3 linked regions of the Homo sapiens genome follow. The protein of the gene in region 2 interacts with the protein of the main gene of each other region in a pairwise test. Each region holds a gene or a part of one and is shown on either strand. Other genes may lie near its edges.

Region 1 (7,314 bases), on a different chromosome or scaffold from region 2:
AAAAGTATTTTAAAGAACATGGGCTTTCCTCCTCTAAAATAATAACATTTACTTGTAGTATTCTAGTGAAGAACATCAAGTGTGTGTGTGTGTGTGTGTGTCTAGCACAGTGCCTGACACATAATGGTTTGTCTTTAGAAAGATATTTTTTTGCATTAGTTTTAAATAAGTTATGCAATAATCTTCCTCTCAAAGCTTTTAATGATTTATTAGGGTTCTATCAAGCTTCTTGTGTCAGTGATTACTTATCCATTTTGATCAGTCACATGGCTTGTGCTTTATCATCTCTAAAATTTATATTTTGCTATTCTCCAGTCTTTAAAAAGCTAATTTCCTATGTAAAAAGAAAAATATTTGAAAAGTTTGCTGACAGAATAGAAATTAAAAATTTATTTTAATGTCAAGGTTCCAAAAACCTTGACATTTTGAAGCCATTGAGTTTCAAGATTTTTTTTACTGGTAATATTTTAGAAACAGTATTTGTACTGATTATATATTTTTCCCCCTCTCAGGCTGTTATAGATGCAAATATTTTTCCTGTTTTGATTGAGATTCTTCAGAAAGCAGAGTTTCGTACCAGAAAAGAAGCAGCTTGGGCTATAACTAATGCAACATCAGGAGGTACTCCAGAGCAAATAAGGTATGATATAAACTTCTTAATTGTTTTTTACATGTAAATGAGACAAAAGTTGAAATAAAACATATTTTAATTTACTGATGGAACTAAAATATTATTTCTAAGTCAGTTTGATAATATGAAATGACAGCATGTATTATATCAGTTACTCATTCACAATTTTTTTTTCCCCATTTAACGTGTAATTAACATCATTCTCCTTGATAGGCTGCTTAAGAAAAATCAGAGATTAAAAAATCCAAACGGGAACGGTCTATGTTAATTTGCAGAGTACACTGTCATGGGCATTAAATATTTTTTAATCACAAAAATATAGCTTTATTATATAGAAATGGCTAATAAATTTGAATATCCACTTACTTTAAATAAAATTGAAATAGACATTGTTTATATGGTGATGTTCTGGTCCTCATTGATTGTTAGCCTTGCCTATGGATAGTATCTTTTATTTTTCTATACTAGTTACCTTTTTTTTATATTAGCTTTTTGAGTCTAGGCTTTTTAAATTTATTTATTCTGCTGACAATGTAAATAATAGGTGCATGGGCTTTTAAGTCAGCCTGATTTCAAATCCTGCTCCTTCAGTAAAAGTTGTGTGGTCTTGACAAAGTCATTTAACCCCTCTAATCTAGTTTCTTCATTTTAAAAAATGAGTTCCAGTAATGAATAGTTATGGCAGTGTAAGTCAGCCTTCCATATCCTTGGGTTTTGCATCTGTGGATTCAACCACCTGCAGGTCAAAAATATTAAAAAAGAAAAAGACAGTAAAAAATGCCAGTACAACACTACAAAATAATGCAAATTTAAAAACACAATACAACAATTAGTAACATCATAGCAATTACATTGTTTTAGGTATTATAAGTAATCTAAAGATAATTTCAAATACTTGGAAAGATATGCATAGGTTGTATGCAAATACTATGCCATTTTATATAAAGGAATTGAGCATCTGTGGATTTTGGTATTGAGAGGAAGGGTGTCTTGGAACCAATCTCCGATGAAACCGAGGGACTGTATCTTGATAGTTAAGTGAAATTTATGTCTTTGAAGTGTCAGCACAGTGCCTAAACATATTATTAATAACTAATAGATAATTAAGAATAGCTACTGTTATTATTTGTAATCATCATAATTTTTATTATCAGTATTGATTCCTGAATCTTTTATCATGTACTTTCACTCTTTTTTATCTCCCATAGCAAAGTTTCACTTACACCTCTACTAAAAGCTTCTACAGAATCGTCTTGTTCGGAGGATCCCTCCATGAAACTAGACTTCTTAGAAAATATTTTCTAATGCATATTTGATTTATTTTTCAATTTATAAAACAAGTCAAACTACAGTGCTATTTTATAAATCACATAATTTTGAAATCTACCTATTGTGAAATTGTCGTCTTTTATTGCCTTCATTTGTAGTATTATCTTGCTCTCTCAAATTTGTATAGCTGTATATTGCTAGCATCTGTCTCTGCCTTTTATTTTCTATTCTATCTCTTTGCTTTCATCAGTATTTCCACTTTGTGTCATGGATACAAGCAGTAATAAATGAAGACCCTTCCTTTGTTCTATTTTGTATTTTTTTAATGTTGATGTTACTTTTATTTTATTTGGGCTGCAAGTTTGTTCACCTGCAAATAGTTGTATTTTTTCAATTAATTTTTGTGGTTATATCTATTCTGTATATTATTGCTTTAATTTATTAGTATGGATTAAGTATCCAAACTGAGATAATTATTTTTCTAACCACTTTTATCATTTCATTAAGTTTGCATATTTGGGAAAAGACCTCTTGATCTCAGATTAAGTTATGCATCCATACCACTAGTTGAGTGCCTACTATTGCCAGTTATTGTGCTAAGTAAGTCATTTCAGTTATTGAGCACCAGCAATGTGTCTGGTACTTTCATGTATTTTATCTCCTGTAATCTCTTAACTATGAGGCAGTTATTCATTCAACAGATATTTTTGACCAATTACAGTACAGTATAGGGCAAATGAGTGCTCTGGTGAAGGTATATACATCTTTTTTTTTTAAGAGGGACAGAAACTTTTATTAAATGTCTATTGTGTTCTTACAACTACTCTCTGAAGTTGGTACTATTATTATTCCCATTTTTAAGATGGGGAAACTGAGACACAGAGTAATTGCTCAAGGTCACACAACTAATAAGGGGTGGAATTGGGACTTGAAGGCACACAGCCTGGCTTCATAGTATGTTTTTAACCTTTGTACTTAATATGGACTTTTTGCCAAGTGAACAAATCAGTTACTTCATTTACATTATAGAGTACAGAAAACCAGCCAATAACTAGAAAAGGACATGCATTCAGAAATTAAAGAATTTTTTTGTGAATATTATTTATGAACATTATTCACAAGAGAGCCTGTTTTGTTCCTACAGGCCTTCTATCCTTCTGAAACACAGTATATGTTTCAGAACATTAGCTGTGATTGTTTTTATGGGAAATTTTCTCAAGTTTAATTTAGATGTCTCTTCTTTCTTTCCATTTCTGTCTACCCCCATATGACCTCCGTGTGTGTGTGTGTGTGTGTGTGTGTGTGTGTGTGTGTGTGTCTGTGTGTAGGCTTGCCTTTAAAAAAAAAAAAAAACAACCTTTCGAACCTACGTTTAATGCTCAGATGAGCACCATGAAAAACAGGCCGAAGTACCAGTTTGTGTCTGTATTTTATAGTCTTTGCAAGACCATTTATTGCTAATTATGTTAAATTAGAGAATAGGTGAGTAAAGAAAATTTTAAGTTTCCTATGTGAGAATTTAAATGTGTGTAATGTTTGCATTTGTATAGGAATACTTTTTCTTAATTGCTTATGTAACATTTCACTATGAAAAATATTTTTGTGTCATTGTTACAAACAGTACTTAAGTCTTTTTAAATCTTTTTTTCCCTGTTTCTTCTCTTTTATATTAATCTGAAGGTATTTGGTAGCTTTAGGCTGCATTAAACCACTTTGTGATCTTTTGACTGTTATGGACTCCAAAATAGTCCAAGTGGCTTTAAATGGACTTGAAAATATTTTACGTCTTGGAGAACAAGAATCTAAGCAGAATGGAATAGGCATTAATCCATACTGTGCTCTCATTGAAGAAGCATATGGTAAGCAATCAGTTAAAAATTTGCAATTATAGTCAGTTCTTATATCTGTCATACTTTCCCCTTCCAGTTCCCTACAATTTTTTTGTTGTAAAAGCAGTATGTATTTTTTTAAGTTTTAAAATGTCACCCGTAATTTTATTACCCTAACAATTTATTTTTATTATTTACCTTTTTTTAACATTGTCTGTATGCACAAATACTTTACATTGACTTAATTGTATTGTATGTATAGTTTTATGTTCTACTTTTTAACATTTTGGAGAAATTTTACATTTCTACATAATTTTTATTATAATGGCCACATAATGTTATGTATATACTATATATATATAAAAATATGTAATTTTTTTTTTTTTTTTTTTTGAGACACAGTTTTACTCCGTCTCCCAGGCTGGAGTGCGGTGGTGTGGTCTTGGCTCACTGAAACCTCCACCTCCCATGTTCAAGCAATTCATGTGCCTCAGCTTCCTGAGTAGCTGGGATTACAGGTGCATGCCACCATGCCCGGCTGATTTTTGTATTTTTAGTAGAGACGGGGTCTCTCCATGTTGGCTAGACTGGTCTCGAGCTCCTGGCCTCAAGTGATCCAGCCACCTCAACCTCCCAAAGTGCTGGAATTACAGATATGAGCCACCATGTCTGGCCATAATGCTACATATTGAGTCAAGTTTTAGCCATTTGAATGGAAGTTTAACCATAACCTGTTGTTGACCATTAGTTTGTTCCCAGTTTATCACTTTATGTATACCAAAATAAGCATCTTTCTGTGTATATGTTTATTTCTTTTATGGAATTAATATCTGGGGATAAATTTTCAGGAATACAGTTGCTGAGTCTTAGGGCACTGACTTCTTTTTAAGCTTTTGATGTCTTCTCATTTTGCTTTCCAAAGGCCTGTTGCTGACAGTGTCACTGGCATTGTATGAATCTATTCTACAACCTCATACTTGTTTTGTTTATTTTGTGGACTCAGCAGATGTAAAATAGTACACCAAGTTGCTTTTATGTACATTTTTTGGTTTATTTCCTATAGATAGTAGTATGTATTTTTCATGAGTTAGTCTGTGTCCTTATCCAAATTGCATATTTATTGTACTTTGTCTGGTTATCTATTTGACTTTTTTTTTTGGTAAAAATTTGAATTTTATTTTATAGTAGTTTATTTTGATATGACTTTTTCCTCGGTCTATTTTTTTTCAGATCATCCATTGAACACATTCTTTTATTTTAATAAAACATACCATGTTCATTTATGTTTAAATAACTCAGTCTAATTTTCTATTCTTTCAAAGTTTACAAAGTCATTGCCTCCACAGAGATTTGATGAAAATTAATTTTTTTATTTGCCAAGTTTTAAAAATTAGGTTCTTAAAACATTTAATCATATGGAATTTATTTTAGATAAGGCATGAATCTAAATTGATTTTCTTTTATTTGCATTAAATATTCACTTTTCTGTATTAAGTCCTCTTACATTGTATGGGTGATTCAGACTTTTATTTTTGATTCTTAAAGCCCATGATATCACTTTGTCTTTCTTTCAAATTATATAACATCACTGGATAAGACATTACATGAATACAAGATATTAGTCACTGATTTAAGAATATTGTCTTACTACAGTCATTATTTTGACCCCGAGTCAGACTAGGGTTTGAGCTATTCTGTGATTGTGTATAGATAGGACTGCTTTGCTGCTTTTTTTTCTGTGATAATCTGATTGAAGTCGTTTATCTGTAATTAAATGAAATGTATTTTCAGCACTACCCAGACTTACGTGTAGAGCTTTTTCTGATAAGCAGTAAAATCGATTGCTATAGATTCTTCTCATCTTTTCAAAATGAGGCCTTTCAGTTTCAATTGTAGATTGTAATTCTTTTAAACCGCACAACAGCCATATGTTTTTTATTGTATGGGTTTGGAAATTTTACACATTTATTTCATAGTGATACTCTCTGGCTCAGCGTGTTTTATTTTCTTCATTTAATTTGTTTTGTTGCTTTCCCTTTTTGGGCTTTGTTAATTACTCTAGAAAGGACCTGTGGAGTTAATCTAAAACTGCCATTTTACAGTTGAGAAACAGAAGAACTAAACTTACCTGGCCAAGATCACACACCTAGCAGGGTGGTGTCTGTGATCTTACTCCCAGGCCTATGGTCCTTCTTCGTATGACACTGCTACATACTCTCATTCTTGAAGTATAAATCGTAAGTGATGGCTATCGGTATGTGCAACAGTTAGATTAAAATAGTCCCGTTGCCAGTGAGGTGATAGATGATGTTCACTTATTATTTTGATTTAAACATATACTGAAATTGTAGTAACAGTTTGTTTATATATATATATATATATATATATATATATATATATATATATATATACTTTGTATAACAGGTCTGGATAAAATTGAGTTTTTGCAAAGCCATGAAAATCAGGAAATTTACCAGAAGGCATTTGATCTGATTGAACATTACTTTGGTGTAGAAGAAGATGACCCCAGCATTGTACCTCAGGTGGATGAAAACCAACAACAGTTTATATTTCAGCAGCAGGAAGCACCAATGGATGGATTTCAACTTTAACTTACTGGAGGAAAAAAAATTTATGGCTAAAAAGGGTAGCTTCAGGTAACTCCTCTTTGTTGCCAATGTAAGAATGTTTGTTTTTTTACATAGAACAGTAAAGAGAATTTGATGCACTTTTAGAAAGCAAAATGAAACAAAAATTTCCATTCAGATGCAACCTTTCATTGTAGTTTGTTGTTGTTTTAGTTTTGTTGTTGTGCCTGTATTTATATCTTCTATTGTTTGGATTTTTGTATCTATTTGTGAATAATTGAATATGCAATTATTTAGTAATTTAAGCTTGAAAAGGAGAATTTTGGTGAAGCATTACTTAGTAATTCTGAATTTTTTCAAGCATTCTTGGAAACTGCACATTAGCAGTAAACCTATTGATAATTGCATTTTGGCAGTAAGTCTTACACATCTAATCTCTACTAAATCTACCTCTATCTTGAAGCAGAAATAAAAACAAAAAAGCTTCAGAAGCATGAAATAATGCAAATGCTAAATTAGAATGTGAAAATATTTATTACCTTAAATTATACATATCACTGTGCTGTAGGTTATACTTTGCAAAAAATTGCAACAGAAAACCTATAAAATTTATTTATAAAACAGAAGAAATATTATACTGATAATCCATTAAAATGTGGCAATTGTGAAGGGAGAAGCTGTTTTTCATGTTGAACACATTAAAAAGATTACTTTATAAAATGTTTAAATATTTCTGTTTTTAACATATAAGTGCTATGTATATTAGTATATTTTGTATTTCAACCAAATATGCTACCATTTTTGAAATAGTGTTTTATTGTTTTTCACTCATTGTTTTAAAGAGCATCATGACAGAGATGTCATCATGAATCTAAAGTAGTGCTGCATATCTAAAATAATAACTAATTATTTCTCTGATTTTTCAGAGCAGTAATTGAAAAGTTTCATTTTCTGTATAATAGTACTAGTTTAAGTTTAAGTACAAGTACAAGTTTAG
Region 2 (7,926 bases):
CCAAGGCCCCACTGGGCAGGTTGCCAAAAACAACACAGAGGTGACAGAAGAGGGGAGTGGCTGCACTGCTGGACCTTAGGGCCCTCCCCTGGGACCTCCTTAGCACCTCCCCAGTGGCACCCACCCTGTGTCCACTTCCCTAGGCACAGAGACCACCCCACAGCTCCACCTCTCCAGGCCCTGCGTCTCCTGCCCCAGTGTGCTAGTGGATGCATGAGGTTAAGGCCCTTCCTCTGGCACCCATACCCCAGGTGTTCAGGTAGCCTGGGGGACTCCTTCCTGTGCACAGGACCGAGGTGTATCTTGGGGCTAGAGCCCCTGAACTCCAGAGGAGACCTTCCCATCCAGGGAACTCCTCCTGCCTCAGTCTGGTGGCAGGAACCACCTCCTGCCTATGCTGATCTGGGATCTCAAGGTGACAAGTCCAGCGGCCTCCTGGGACAGCCCAGAGAGCCCTCCCTGAAGCCCAGAGGTCTATTCTCCCTGTGGGGGGTCGCACCACAGAGGTACCCAAGACATGGGGCTCAGGTGTGGCCGCTTGTGCATGGATCCCCCACAGCCCGGTCAGGTCTCGAGGCTAGGTGAAAATCTCCAGTAAATGAGCTCTGGCCACACCCCACCAGGACACACATGTCAGGGGAAGAGAAACTTTAGCAACTTGTTAGAGAGTGTTGAACTTTTTTTAAGCAGTAGAATTCCCTTTTTAAAAGCTATCTCGTGGCCTGGTGCGGTGGCTCATGCCTGCAATCCTAGCACTTTGGGAGGCTGAAGCGGGTGGATCACCTGAGGTCAGGAGTTCGAGACCAGCCTGACCTAGATGGTGAAACCCCGTCTCTAGTAAAAATTAGCCAGGCGTTGTGTCAGGCACCTGTAATCCCAGCTACTCGGGAGGCTGAGGCAGAAGAATAGCTTGAACCCGGGAGGCAGAGGCTGCAGTGCGCTGAGATCATGCCACTGCACTCCAGGCCGGGTGAGAAAGCAAGACTCCGTCTCAAAAAAAAAAAACAGCTATCTTATAGATATCCTCTTAAGACACGAACATAGAGGTGCTCTGGTTGAAATGTGTGCGTTTGAGGTTGGGGGTAGGGATGAAGTTCTATCTATTCAGTCTTCTCTAACCCACTGTCAGAAATCTCATGGCTCCAAAGAACACATCAGAAAGACCATCTGCTAGAAGGCAACTCCACGAAGACAGGAATTTGGGTCTGTTTTGTTCACTACTATGATCCAGTGCTTAGAACAGAGCCTGAGCCAGGCACAGTGACTCACGCCTGTAATCCTAGTACTAGGAGGCCTACCTAGGTGGGTGGATCACTTGAGGTCTGGAGTTCGAGACCAGTCTGGTCAACATGGTGAAACCCCCATCTCTACCAAAAATATAAAAAAAAATTAGCCGGGCATGGTGGCACACACCTGTAATCCCAGCTACTAGGGAGGCTGAGGCAGGAGAATGGCTTGAACCCAGAAGGCGGAGGTTCCCGTGAGCCGAGATCCTGCCACTGTACTCCAGCCTGGGTGACAAGCTATAGGCACTCAATAACAATGTGAATGAACGTACTTCAACCCTCTAATTTTGCAGGCCAGGAAACTGCAGCCCAGAGAGGTTAAGTGACTTGCCTAAGGACACACAGCAAGGGGGACCCAACTTTCTCTCTGGCTCTCTCACACAGAGGCACTTCTTACTGAGAACAAGACAGTCCACCCTCCTCAAATATGCAGATCACAGTGACCCACCCCCACCCACCAAGCCTCTGTGAACTGAGCGCTCGGCCTCAGCGGGATGCTCGTCCCACCCGGTACTCACTTGTCTTTGTGGCCTTGACCTTCGCCACCAGTTTCTGCACACCGGTCACATCTCCATTCTTGACGGCGAGGATCAGGTCCTGTTCACGACCCATACTGGCTCCTGGGCTGAGCTCTACACTCAGGAGTCCAGGGCAAAGGCAGGCAACGGGTCCAAGCTGGGGCGTCAGGGCGCCATGCCACAGCCCCTTGGAGGGCTCCCGGTTCCGGGGGAGCAAGTCAGGTGTCCCAGGCAGTGGGCTCCTCGTCAGGTACTGAGGGATACTCCCAAAGGTGCTCCGTGAACTGCCACCACACGAAGGAAAGCTAATCTTTGAGGGGGTGAAGGCTACATGGAAATCTGGATGGATATCAGCTTGTGGCTTCCGACAGCTCCAGGATGGGCTGGGACTGGGCACACCAATCTTCCCGGCTTGGCTGTGGAACACCAGTGCCCACCCAGAGAGCAGCCAGCATTCCCTTGGGCCTCAGGCAGCAGCGGTGCACTGGTCTCAGGGCTCTGGAAAAAGCACGGGGCCTCTGTCGAATGCTGGGCCACAGCCTGCAAGGGTCCCAGAAGTGGAGTGCAGAGGATGAGCAGGACAAGACCTCCAGGGAGCCCCCAAGCCACCCTGGCTCCCCTCGGAGTCGATGGTGATGCTGAGCCACTGAAAGTGGGGAGGAAGCTGCTATGCATGAGAGGAGTATTGGTGGGGGGGAGGTGGCATTCTGGGAGGGGGAGGCTGAGTCACTGGGGCCCCAGGGCACCTGGCAGTACCTCAACCTTGGGCAGGAGGGGCCCTGGCAGCATGACATACTGGGGCAGGCCGGGCCAGCAGCCTGTTCTCCACAGCCCGAGGCTCCGACACCCACAGACAACTGGCGGGCCAGGAGGTGGGGCCGGGAGGGTCAGGCACAGGCAGGCGGGCAGGGGTCACTCCCTGTCAAAGGCACCAGCCCCCAGATTCCTCCCTACGGAGGCTTCAAGGCTTCGCTTTAATGGCTGGATGCCCTAGTCCTAGGACTCTTTGTGAACGGAGAGCATGAAGTGCTTCTGGCCCCCCATTTCTGGGGGCTCTGCCTGCTAGAGAGGGAAGCTGCACAGCACCTGTTGCTGACCCGCCCTCGCCCCTTGTGTCGGGTGGAGGAGCAGCTGGGCAGAGAACAGAGAGAGCTGGGGCACTGCTGACAAACGGGGCTCCCAAGCCCCCCAAGCCTGAACCTGAAGCCCAGACCCTGGACTCCACCGCAGAGAAGCTTACGTCAGTTTCTCGGTGGCAGCGAATTTACTGCCAGAGTCTTGTGGCATGAGATCCGCGCAGGCCTGGGGCCCTGGCCGGGAACCCCTCACTCCCCAAACGTCCCAAGCCCAACCCAGGGGCACTCCCACGCGGAGCCCGCGGCCGACACGGGCGGAGGGCGCCCTTGGCAGTGCCTGGGGTCGGGCTGGCTCCCCCGCCCCCCGGAATGTCCCTCCAGCGCCTCGCAACCCCCCAGCCCAGCCCAGCCCAGCCCAGGCCCACCGGGGAACAAAGCGGCGGGAGAAGCCGGGCGGGCCAAGCGCCCGAGGTATAAACGCGGAGGATGGAAAAAGGGGCGCGAGGAGGACGGAAGGAGCGGGGAGATGGAGGTGCCCGCCGACCCCGCAAGAAAAGTTAGTTTGCGCCCGCCCCCAGGGGCGCTGACCCCCAGCGCGGGCCCCGCAGCCTCACCTCTCCCGGCCGCCCGCCGGGGTCCGGCTGGCCCTGCTCGGTCCCTGGCACTCAGGACGGTGGCTCCCACTCCCCCCTGCCCCCCTTTCTCCTTCTCCTTTTCCAAGGCCGGCTCGGCGCCTCCCGCAGGAAATCCCGCCCCTCCCCCCTCCCTCCCGCCGGATCGGGAACGGAGGGACCGTCCCGGCCGCGCAGTCAGGCTGTCAGTCAGCACCGGCGGCTCCGCCCCCATCCGCGCCAGATCCCGCCCCAACTCGTGCCCGCCCGGACCGGGGGCGCTGACCGGATCAGCGCATGCGCCCAGGTGAAACGGAGGGGCGGGGGGCGCGGGGGCAGAGGTGACCTGGGGCTCTGGACTTAGACCCAAGGGCTAGACACCCCGGGTCTGACTGGTGGGAGAGAAGACGTAATGTGAAGGGGGTTGGCAACCAAGACGCGGGACCCCACTTGCAGTACCCCCCGTCTGCGGCCGGCGTCGCCCACCCGCAGCCGCCGGCCGGGCAATGGCACCACCTAGCGGACGGCACCAGTGCGGGGACCCCAGCCTCGAGGAGGCGCTCGTGCCGGGCGGAGGTGGCGCTTCAGCACCGTCGTGGGCCGGACAGCGCCTCCCGCCCCCGGCCCTCGAAACCTGGCTTCGGAGCCCAGCCGTAGGGACCGGACGGAAGACACCGAAGGAATGGCGAACCTCCCCGGACCGCTCCTGACAGTTCCCGGGTGGCCTTCGGCCTGCAAAGTCGGAATTTGCACACCCTCCGCTCGTCCTTCCCTGAGCCCTTCTGCCCTCCTTGCCCAGCCCGGGCGGTGGGGACTAAGCAGCGCGAGGCTGCAGAGGGGCGGTCACAAGTGTGACCATTCGCACTGCACTCCAGACGCCGGCTCCTCAGGCTTTACTGGAGAGAAGCCCCGAGGAGGGCTAGGGGCAAAAGAGGGGCCTTCTGCATCTCCAGCAACCTGCGGGCTGAGCTCCCAGACCCGGCGTCGGGGTGCGCTTCCGGGCGGGCGCTAGGACCGGGGACAATCAGGAGGGCGCAGAGCGGGCTGGGGCGGTGCAGGGGGCGGGGCTGCCGCGGCATTGCGGATCGGCGGGCACTAGGGCAGCGCGGAGCTCCGGCGGTGGGCGGGGCGTGGCGGCGCGCGCAGCGGCAGGCGGCGGCGGGATGGAGCCCGAGCCCGAGCCCGCGGCCGTGGAGGTTCCCGCGGGGCGCGTGCTCAGGTGCGGCGCGGCCCGGCCGGAGTGGGTGTCGGGGGCGCGGGGCCAGCGCGGGTAGGGAAACCGGCGCCCGGGACCCGGCCAGGCGGCCCCCGATGCGCGGCGCTGACCCCGCGTCCCCTTCTCCCCCAGCGCCCGGGAGCTCTTCGCCGCCCGCTCGCGGTCGCAGAAGCTGCCCCAGCGCTCGCATGGCCCCAAGGACTTTCTGCCCGACGGCTCGGCAGCTCAGGCCGAGCGGCTGCGCCGGTGCCGGGAAGAGCTCTGGCAGCTGCTGGCAGAGCAGCGCGTGGAGCGCCTGTGAGAGGGGCGGGCCCAGGGGTAAGGGAAGCGGGGGCGAGGCGGGCCGCGGGGTCTCCGGAATGGACTGACGCAGACCCCTCCCCACTCCTCGCCAGGGGCAGCTTGGTGGCTGCCGAGTGGAGGCCAGAAGAGGGCTTCGTGGAGTTGAAGTCTCCCGCGGTGAGCGGCGGGCTCGGGGACCGGGGACCGCCCTCCCTGCCCTCCCTGCCCTCCCTCCCTTGTGACACTTGCTCTGGGCCCCACACAGGGCAAATTCTGGCAGACCATGGGCTTCTCAGAGCAGGGCCGGCAGCGCCTTCACCCGGAAGAGGCCTTGTATCTTCTGGAGTGTGTAAGTGGGGCCCGGGAGGTGGGGAAGGAGTTGGGACCAAAGAACGGGAAGGACACGTTTTATCGGAGAAAAAGCACACACAACCCGGTCTTTAGAGAACTGATAACCAAACTTCTAAAGCAGGAGGTGGTACGTTGCAGGGAGCAGGGATTCCAGTCCACATTAGTGATGCTGCCCCACTTTCCTGGTTGGCCACATTCTTGATGCGCTGCTGAGAGGGGGAGGGGGAGGTATCAGAGCTGGGAAGTTGCCCCATTCCTCTGTGGCACTGTAGTGAGGGCTCATAAGCTGAGCTGTTGGCCCCACTTCCAGGGCTCCATCCACCTCTTCCACCAAGACCTGCCACTGTCTATCCAGGAAGCTTACCAGCTGCTGCTGACCGACCACACTGTGACCTTCCTGCAGTACCAGGTATCTGCCACCACCCCGCCTCCGGGAGCCACCCATCCACTGAATCAATGAGTATTGACAAGTACCCATAAGGTGCCAGGCACAGTGTCACATGCTGGGGCTGCAGGGCAGACGAGGGCTATGCTGTCACGAGGCTTACATTGTGGTGGTGGCCTGTTGGCTTCACATAGACCCCAGTGCTGTCAGAAGATAAGGTGGGGGAAGAGAATCCAAAGAGACTGGGCTGTTCATTCAGGTGAGAGAAGCTAGGGGCTTGTCGCAGGTTGGGGGTGGGTAGAGTTGCAGTGAGTGAAAAATAGATGAATCTCAGAAATATTTTGGAGAAAGAATGGATAGGACTGCCAATGGATTGGATGTCAGGATTAAGGAGAGAGAAGAACCCAGGATTACCGCCCATGATTTGGGCATGCACCAGTGGATGAAGGTGCTGTCATTTTCTGAGTGGGAAGAATGAAGAGGAGCAGATTTGGGAGGACAAGACCAGTCGAAAGAACTGTGTCAGATAAGTTAATTTTGAGGAGCTTCTTGGACATCCAAGTGAGTGTAAAGCAGACAGACAATTGGAATCCAAGTCTGGAGTGTGAGGAGAGGTCAAGGCTAGATGTAAATATGGGTGCCATGAGCACATGGATGGTATTTAAACTACTGGGCTGTATGGGAGTGCCATCAGAGTAGAGGGCTGGGTCTGAGCCCTGGGGCTCTCTGTGTAGGTTAGGGGGCAGATAAGAAGCAGAAACAGACCGAGGAGTGTCTGGTGATGCAGGAGAAAAACCAAAGTCGCATCACAGAAGCCAAAAGAAGGTCTTTCAAGGAGGAAGTGGTTAGCTGTGCTAAAGCCTGCTGAGATCAAGCAGGATGGGGGACATTCTTATCTATGTTCCTCTGATATGAATGCAGGGACACAAGGTTGAATATGTGGCTCCCTACCAGAAACTTCCCACCGGCATCTGTGGAGGTGTGGGGCTGGAGAGATGCCCACCACCTGCCATCATTTTGTTCACATGGTGATCGGCAGCTTCACTCCTATGAGCTTTGTATCAAAATACTCAAGTATTTCAGGGCGTGGTGGTTTTCTGGTTTCATGGCTATCAGTTTTTTTGGATTTGGCTAAATGTCATTTGTGCCGAGTAAGGTAAGTGGGAGGACAGGAATTCAGAGCCTGAGATCTTTAGGGATGGTGTTCGTAATGAAGCATGGTCCAACCTTAATCACAGGGTTTAGAATCTGGGGGTGTACAGGAGGGGCAGAGAGGGCTGTGGGGATGGCCTGTGTCTGGAGAAACCATTTGGTGTTTTCCAGAGTGGCCATCTGAGCTTTCATTTTTTTTTTTTCTTTTGAGGTCTTCAGCCACCTGAAGAGGTTGGGTTATGTGGTTCGACGATTCCAACCAAGGTAAATCCCCTTCCTGTTCCCCTTCCATATATTCTAGTCCTGGGACCTGGCTGACTAGTCTAAGGTAGAAAATGGCCTCTCCTTACCTGGAACCCTTGGCTGGAGTGCAGTTCCTTGGGCACAGACTGGGGGCGCCTGCTGGAAGCGTTCTGAGAGAGGCAGGTTGGGAGGAATCCAGGTCATTTTGTTTTATTCTGGTTTATGAACTCGAGCCGCATCTTCAGATGACCTGCGCCTGCAGCTGAGTGTGTGTGAGCACTGAGAGGCAGGATTGGAACAGTGCCTGGCACTTAGTAGGTGCGCAGGCAGGTATGTAGAGTGTATGCTTAAATGAAGGACTGGGTGAAGAATTTACCATTAGTAGGGTTTCACATTTTTCATGCCAGGTTAAATGTTTTTTCCTTCATCACCTTAGTAATCCAGCATTGGTAAAAGGCAGAGACCTTCAGACTTGGAGTGGAAACGGGTACAGCTTTTGCAGTTACAGTATGTCACAAAAGCTCTAAAGCAGGCACATCTTTTCTTTTCTTTTTGAGACGGAGTCTCACTCTGTCGCCCAGGCTGTAGTGCAGTGGCATGATCTCAGCTTACTGTAGCCTCTGCCTCCTGGGTTCAAGCAGTTCTCCTGCCTCAGCCTCCCAAGTAGCTGGGATTACAGGCGTGTGCCACCATGCCTGGCTAATTTTTTTATTTTATTTTATTTTTAGTACAGATGGGGTTTCACTGTGTTGCCCAGGCTGGTCTCGAACTCCTGACCTCAAATGATCCTCCCGCCTCAGCCTCCC
Region 3 (7,314 bases), on a different chromosome or scaffold from region 2:
GCACACTGTGCACCAAGGGGACGACTCAGGCAATCTGCAGCGGTGGTCCAGGGCTACTCAGCTCAGCCTCAGTCACCTGCAATGAAAACCACCTCTTGCCATCAGAGTCAATGATATAGATGGGACACTTAAAAACCAAAACAGGTTCATATTCTCTGGTTTGTAGGAAAGAATTCATATCTTCACAGCAAAAATAAAAAAGGAGGGGGCATGTTTTTAATATCAAACTGGCCATCAAAGTGTTCACTGACCTTTAATAACTGATCTTTTCATTTTGAAATATAGGGTTCAATAAGGATGGTCCAGAAATCACTTTTATTTTACTCAAGGGCTGTGAGGCCTCTACCTTAGGAGTCTCAGTTCTGGTGAGAGCAGTGTTTTGGGAGGCATTGTGTGAGACACACCAGTTGGAGCAAAGTTCCCAAAGGCCAAGGGGGCCTATCACAGTCACCTTGTGCTACCAAAGCACTGAGCAGCCAAGCCCCTAAGCAGAACAGCAGGGGAGAGACCCAACAAGCCAGTGTCCCTAGAGCTCTAGGCCATTACCCCCTGTGCTGTGTTCTGAGATGAGTCTGCTCTCCCACTGCTTCCCCAGGGAAACAATGCCCTAGTGTGGTCTCACAGCCTTCTAGGAATCAGCGGAGGACTTCCATTGAAAATAATGGAAATTCACATTGGCGTACTTTCGATCCTTAAAAGGCAAGTCTCTTTTGATCCTTGAAGATATTCTCTCAAGCCAGGGGGGCAGGTAGGGTGGGGAGGAGAGAAGTTTAAAAAGGAGGATGATCCATTTCATCGAGCCAAGAGCCTGGGCTAGTTGGAAAGTCGGGATAGCCTACACTGCTTCCTGTGGAGATGTCAGAGGTGGGTCCCCCAGCCATGGCTCTCAGCGTCTGGCTTACTCCCTGCCCTGCATGCGCAATGATGCCCAAATTACTGTCCACCGTGTAATCCAGCCCATTGAGCAAAGGAGCGTGGGATGGCAGGGACGATATGGAGGATGGAGACTGGGGGATTCCATAGGGGCTCCCATCCCTCAAGTCCTGATAGGATTGTCCTGTCCCGTCCATGGAGAAGCTCCCATTCATTAACTGTCCGCCTGTAACGTCCCCCACGTTGCCATAAATCCTATTGGTGTGGCCAAGTTCTGAGAGAATTTGATCCTCTGTGGACAAAAGAACGGAGATTTATTGTCAGCTGCCAGGACTCTGATGGTCCCCTGCTCTTCACAACCTAGGAACACACATGACCAGGAAAGATGCCCAAGGATGGCAGCTGCCTTGCAGCCAAGCATGGGTCAGACACACCAATATGGCAGCCTGATATCCAGAGGCCAACCCAGGCCAAGGAGAAAAACAAGAAACACCTGCAAAGACTAAATTCCCAGGTCCCAGAAGGATGGACAAATGTTTGGTGAGCTCGTTGGTCCCTTGTGGCTCGTGTACTAATACTCTGGCTACACTGAGGAGGATGAATGCCTAAGGCTGGGTGGGTCAGATGTCTCCACATCACAAATGGAAACTACATGCTGACAACATTTACCCTGAAAGCTTTCAAGCTGAGAAAGGGCTTGGTTTAGTTGATTGGGAAGCAAGCAGGCCCATATGGTCAGGGAAGCTGAGGACCACTCTTAGACATCTGTACAAAATCCTTCTGGTCTATCTGGAAGAGAGGTTCAATATCAAAGGACTTGGTTTCTGTCTGTATTCAATAAGCTCTTCACTGGGGACAAAGAATTGACTTGATTAAGGCAAATGAACCTTCTTTTTTCTTAAAGAATTTCATTAAGGGGATCTAATGGAATCTTTGCCACTTGAAAGAATTTCTCTCTCCAACAGAGGTGAGCAGTTTTAGTCTTTGAGAAATTATTCCCAGAGAAACCAATGATAGGTCAGCCCAGGGACCCACCTGCACCCAACAGAAATGAGCTTAACAATCCAGTATGTTCTAGGTGTTGACTTCAACAGCCCAGATGAGATTGACTTTCCCAATCCTGCCAAGAAGCCTAAAAGGTGAGTATTAGTCCCATGAGCTGTCCCCAAGGCCTCACGGGCCCTGTGTTCTCAGAGGAGGCTGCCCTCTAGGGCTCAGCTGACCTCTGGGCTGAACTAGAGTCCTCCCAGGGCATCGTTGTCCTGGCAGGCAACTTGTTCCATCCTCTGTCCCACAAACTTCCTTTTCTATTTCCACCTGGGCCTCTGCACCAATCCCTAAATAAGGCCTCCCCAGACTAGACTTCAACACCCCATCCCTTCTGAGGCCTGCCCCCCATTCCCCTTATGAAAAAACATGGTGGGGGGAGCTCATGCTCTTTAAAGGGAGCAGGAAGATGAAGGCTCCACTCCATTGTCAAATGGCCATGAGTTAGCCTTTTCCCTATACCTGTCATCCCAAATGACCAGGGCCCTCTGCGGGAGCCACACGCTCCCTGTGGGAACGATCATGCCTTCCAGGTATACAAATGTGCCAGGCTTTCCCCAAGCACATCCACAGTTGGTTGTGTTCATTGATCCCCACAACGCAGTGAGATGGGCAAAGATATGGTATTCCTCTTGGGAATACTGGGGCTCAAGAGAAGTGAATCGATTTGACAGAGCTGCACTGGAAACCAGGTCTCTGATCGCCAGTTGAGTACTCTTCCCTTTCCCCCTCCGCAGAAGACCTTCCACATTTGAGAACTCAGTACCTGAGAACAGTTATGATTCTTTGCAAACAACCTGAGGATTCATAACATGCAGTAATTTACAATTTTGCTGATGCATGAATTTGAATATAGTGCATGCTGCAAAGCTTGTGTGCAGGGGACAGAATGAAGTGAGTGGTGGGGAAAGGGATTTCGGAAGTGAAGCCAGTTCCCCATCTCACATGCACTCACAGTACTGATTTCCCAGGAAAAAACCTGTGGAGCATGACCTCCCCACCACCAGGACTGGAGGAAGGGGTGGCTCTAGGGGACTATGGGAGTAGGCCAGTGTCCCAGCAAAGGGGACAAAGATGGGAGAGGGGCTAGGGGCACAAGGCTGGAACCCAGTCATCTGTTCATAGCTGTGTGGGCTGATGAGGGAGGCCCCAGTCAGCAGGAGGGGAGGGGAGACCTTGGGGCCACAGGACGGGGCCTGGCCCATCCCAGCTTCCAGACCTCAGCAATCTTGTTTCCTACTCCTGTCCCATGGTAAAGGGCCACTACCATTTCCCCCACCCTTCACTGCAAGTCTTAAGGAAAAGCCTGTGTTCAGGAGGGAGTTGCCAAGGCCTCAAGAAAGATCCCTCCTGAGTGCCAGGGATTACAGATTCCCAGGGGACTTTCCTAAGGCCTCGGCCTGGCCCCTCCAGCCCTGCTCACCTCGGAAGCTCAGCTCACTGTCACTAACCCCACAGTCCTCTGCAGAGCTCTCCTTCTCCTGCTTGCTGCTGCCCCGGCTCCTCTTGACGCTCTTATAGAACTGCCCCCAGCGGTGCCGCCCTGCATCCTTCTTCAGGCGTTTCTCTTTGGCCCTTCTGTTCTGAAACCAAACCTGCCACACAAGCACAAGGGACATACTCAGGGGGCGTCCACCACAAACCCAAAGCCCCCAGGACCCCCTAGGCGGGCGGCTGGAAGCAGACTGAAGCCTGAATGGAGCACAGGTCTGGGAGTGCGATGCGCCCCACCCCCTCTCCCCAGGTGGGCCTCAGAACTCTGTCTTCAGTTCTGGCAAAAGCCCTGGGGTCAAGCCCTGAGCCCAACCACCCGTGAGCTGATGTCACTCAGGATACCTTCCACCCCTGTCCCGGGCCTGGGATCCCCGGAGGGCACAGGAGTGCTGGCATCTCACCTGTACGACCCTCATGTCCAGGCCTGTCTCTGAGGACAGCTGCTCCCTCACGTGCCGGGCAGGCTTGGGGGAGTTCTTGTATGCATTCTTTAATGTCTCCAGCTGCTTGGCTGTGATGGTGGTCCGGGGCCGCTTAGCTCCAGCCTCTGAGTCATCTGCAAGGAAAAACCACTGCTTACTGGCTTCGGCCTATCTGCAGCAGCTGCGCCTCCTCCCACACCCTCCCTTCCATCCTTTCTGCACCTAAGCCTGCCTGCTGTAGGCAGGACAGCGCGAGGCACAGGGGACATCAGAGTGGAGAGGTCCCCACTCTCATGGCACTGACTCCTGCACCACGGGCCTTCCCAAGCCACTGAAAAGTGAGGACAGCAGTCCTTTCTCTGCTCAGCTCCCTGCCTCAACCCTCCCCTGCCAGCCCAGCTGCACAGAAGTCTCATCAGATTGAATGTACCCAATTCCACACGTCCCTGTCATGACAAACACTCTGCTCACACATCCTCATGAGTTCTTGCCAGAGCTGTGAAGGTGAACAGCCAGGTTGAAGTCATGTTCAAAGTCGCCCCAGATGCCCTCCCCTCTGTCTCATCAGGAGTCTCCCATTTCCCCACAGCCATGTCACCTTTGCCCTGGCGTCGCTGGGCTCACAGCCAGGGGTGAGCTTGCACACCCAACAGTGTCTAAGCAGGTTTCTAAACTATAGGTCAGAACCCACTCGTGGGCTGTAAAGTCACCTTAGTGGATCAAAACTAAAACAGGAAATCAGATGAAGAGAATGGGATGGAATGGCAAGATCATTTCATTAAACTTTAGTTTTTATTGTATAAATATGTGTACTGAGATGAAATGTAAAATGAGTTTTACTGTGGATTGTAGTCAAAATTTTTTGAGAAAACTAGTCTAAGGAATGTTCTGGGCAACACACTGACTGATCAACACAAAGTCCTAGACAGATTTTGAGTGAACAAGCTCAAGTTCCTGTTAGTTAAAGTCTGGTTTGTTCCATTCAAAGTCAGGTACAGAGAGAGGCGCGTGCGTGTGTTCGGAAGCACAGGTGAATGTAAAGGTTTGTTTCCTCTCCCAGCACTTAGGCATACTGCCCTTTTCTCCACAGTGCCCCTGGAGGACACACGGAATAAAGTCAGCAGCTGGCCTGGGCAGCTCTGCTCTCTGTGCTTGCTCACCTGTGTGCCCCAGAAGGTGTCTCTGTGACATTCCTGACTTCCTCTCTGTCTTTTCTCCTTTCTTTCCATTCAAGAAAACCCTCTCTTAGAAACAATAGTAGCCAACATGTGTTAGCACCTACCATGTGCTGGTGTTGACTAAGGACTTTATATGCATTCGGTCCTCACAATCTACAAGGCTCTCCCTGGAGTCAGCAGACCTGGCTTCAGTGTTCTTGATGAGTGAGTGACTTGGGCCAGTAACTCACTTCCCCCTTGGAAGTCCAGAGGGCAACACGGCCTGCCCTGATCTTGGGAGGCACTAGAGGAATGAAGCAGCTGTGCAGCCAGGACATGTGTGTACACAGTGAGGGGGGACACACCCGTGCCTTCCCTTCTCCTCGGGCTGTTTTCTTCTCTCACGTGGCCACTGTCATCCCGGAACTACTGTGGCCCAACTCCCTCCCTGAAGCCCTGAACCCGAAGGGTAGGGATTCCGGAGCCCCTGCCACAGAGACTACACTACTTAGAGAGTCATTCCAAAAGACAAAGGGGAACCTCCAAAATGCCTTCCTTTTCATTCTGAGGAGTCTGTCCCTTCTGTGCATATTTATAGTCTACACGGGAGTGTCTGATGCAACTTTGAATTATGCAAATGGGAAATAGTGCACTTGTGTACAATCTTTATATTAAAAAATGTGAAATAATGCAATCACCAAAAATGTTTTAATTTCTCGAGAATCACTTAATTTCAAAATAGCTTGGCCTACGGAATTATAAATTCTTTTCACCACAGCCAGATGGTAGCGCCACTGGGATAGACCCGTCATCCTGGTTGGTGGCCCGCTGGTTCGGCACTGCTACACACACAGGATTTTCTTCTTGCAATGATGGGGACTAATATGCTGTTATTTTAACATTCACTGTTATTATAATTTAAAATCTTTTTTATATCCCATAACAATGTCATCCAAGTATTCATTAAGTAGCAGTGGCAGTGCTCGTGCTGAAAAATGTACCCAAAAATCAATAACTTTGGTACGGAAGTTAAATGTGACAAAACGCTATGAGGAAGGCCAAGGGAGCCCATGATACCCTGGGCTGTTAATTTAGGAGAGAGCGTTCTGCAAGGTATTCAAGATAATGCTGAGAAAATAAAAAGTAGCATTAAGGCAAAGATACACTTCACTGGTTATGGATTTATGTGCTCTCAGAATATACCACCCCCCCCCCCACACACTCTACATTAATTCCTACAGGAAAATTAGTCTTAAAATATGTTAGTTTTGAATGATGCAGGGTCTCCTAGAACTTGTCCCTGGCATAAAACGCAACCTCATTATATTGAAAATGCAAATATCCAGGGAGACGGAACAAGTGAACAAAATCATTCACACTAAGGTGCAAGTAACTGCTCTGAGATCCTTTGTTTAGCTAATGGGAGGGAACTGTAAGCCTGCAGGAGGGCTGAGAGTAGCAAGGAGGAATTAAAACAACCTGAAAAGACAGCCAGGCATTCTGCAGTGGACAGAACTCCCCGCTGCTCCAAGGATCACCGATTGCCCAGGACAGAGGAGCCCTGCCTTGCTCACAGCCAGGGTGGGGTCAGGAAAGGACCCGGGGAACAGGCCAGAAATACTGTGTAACATTCCGCTGCTTTAAAACCTCAAGCACACCTCACCTCCCTGTTTGCACTTCTCCTCCACGTCAGTCTCTTATTTCACATCCCATTTCACAAGCCTCATCCTATTTAAACCTCAGGAAAACAGCCCTACGTGGCAGATGCTATGATCCTCCATAGACAGCTGAGAAGCCGAGGGTCAGCCAGTTCTACAACTTGCCAGGAGATCTCCCTGTGTGGGGGGATGCCCAGCCAGCTTCTGACAGCAAGTCCGGCATCTTCCATCATCCTGCAGAGGTCTGCTGTGGTGCAAATATTCCTCGATAAAACTGTGAGCACCACAATGTCATTCCCACCTCCCCAGCCAGATTCTGACCAATCTACATCTGTTTCTCTTGTCTCTTGAACCACCCACAACATCAGGAGATGCTGAGCTGAGAGTGCTCAGAGTCCAAATGAGGCCTCTGATGAGAACCAGCTGCAGGCCGGGGAGGTCGTGCCATCTTAGTATCTCTGATGAACGGCACTAGACTTCCAAAGGTGTCTTGGTATCTCTGAGTCCATCTGCTGTGATGGTTCATCCCTGACAAGTTGCCCTAATCTCCCATGACATCACAATTGACTTCAAGGCAATAGCATGGAGTGAGTTTTAAGAAACCAGAGCAGATTAGTACATTGCAGGCAAAGAGCCTTGGGATGGGTTTGCAGAGGCCCCAGG

What was found.
Region 1: the proteins of TSEN54 (region 2) and KPNA5 interact in binary tests that used the Homo sapiens proteins (3 or more experiments, as listed by UniProt).
Region 3: the proteins of TSEN54 (region 2) and LHX4 interact in binary tests that used the Homo sapiens proteins (3 or more experiments, as listed by UniProt).

Annotation. Positions count from the first base shown.
Region 1 is NC_000006.12:116,725,983-116,733,296, forward strand, and holds part of KPNA5 (importin subunit alpha-6), read left to right. Parts: intron 1-512; coding exon 513-640; intron 641-3,580; coding exon 3,581-3,759; intron 3,760-6,153; coding exon 6,154-6,341; 3' UTR 6,342-7,314. UniProt on the Homo sapiens protein: Functions in nuclear protein import as an adapter protein for nuclear receptor KPNB1. Binds specifically and directly to substrates containing either a simple or bipartite NLS motif.
Region 2 is NC_000017.11:75,511,907-75,519,832, forward strand, and holds the start of TSEN54 (tRNA-splicing endonuclease subunit Sen54), read left to right. Parts: upstream 1-4,621; 5' UTR 4,622-4,654; coding exon 4,655-4,710; intron 4,711-4,839; coding exon 4,840-5,004; intron 5,005-5,102; coding exon 5,103-5,166; intron 5,167-5,254; coding exon 5,255-5,338; intron 5,339-5,650; coding exon 5,651-5,749; intron 5,750-7,088; coding exon 7,089-7,141; intron 7,142-7,926. Other genes in the region: CASKIN2 (caskin-2), read right to left, coding at 1,805-1,898.
Region 3 is NC_000001.11:180,268,036-180,275,349, reverse strand, and holds part of LHX4 (LIM/homeobox protein Lhx4), read right to left. Parts: intron 5,698-7,314; exon of another isoform or gene 3,971-5,697; coding exon 3,816-3,970; exon of another isoform or gene 3,516-3,815; coding exon 3,344-3,515; exon of another isoform or gene 1,166-3,343; coding exon 771-1,165; 3' UTR 1-770. UniProt on the Homo sapiens protein: May play a critical role in the development of respiratory control mechanisms and in the normal growth and maturation of the lung. Binds preferentially to methylated DNA.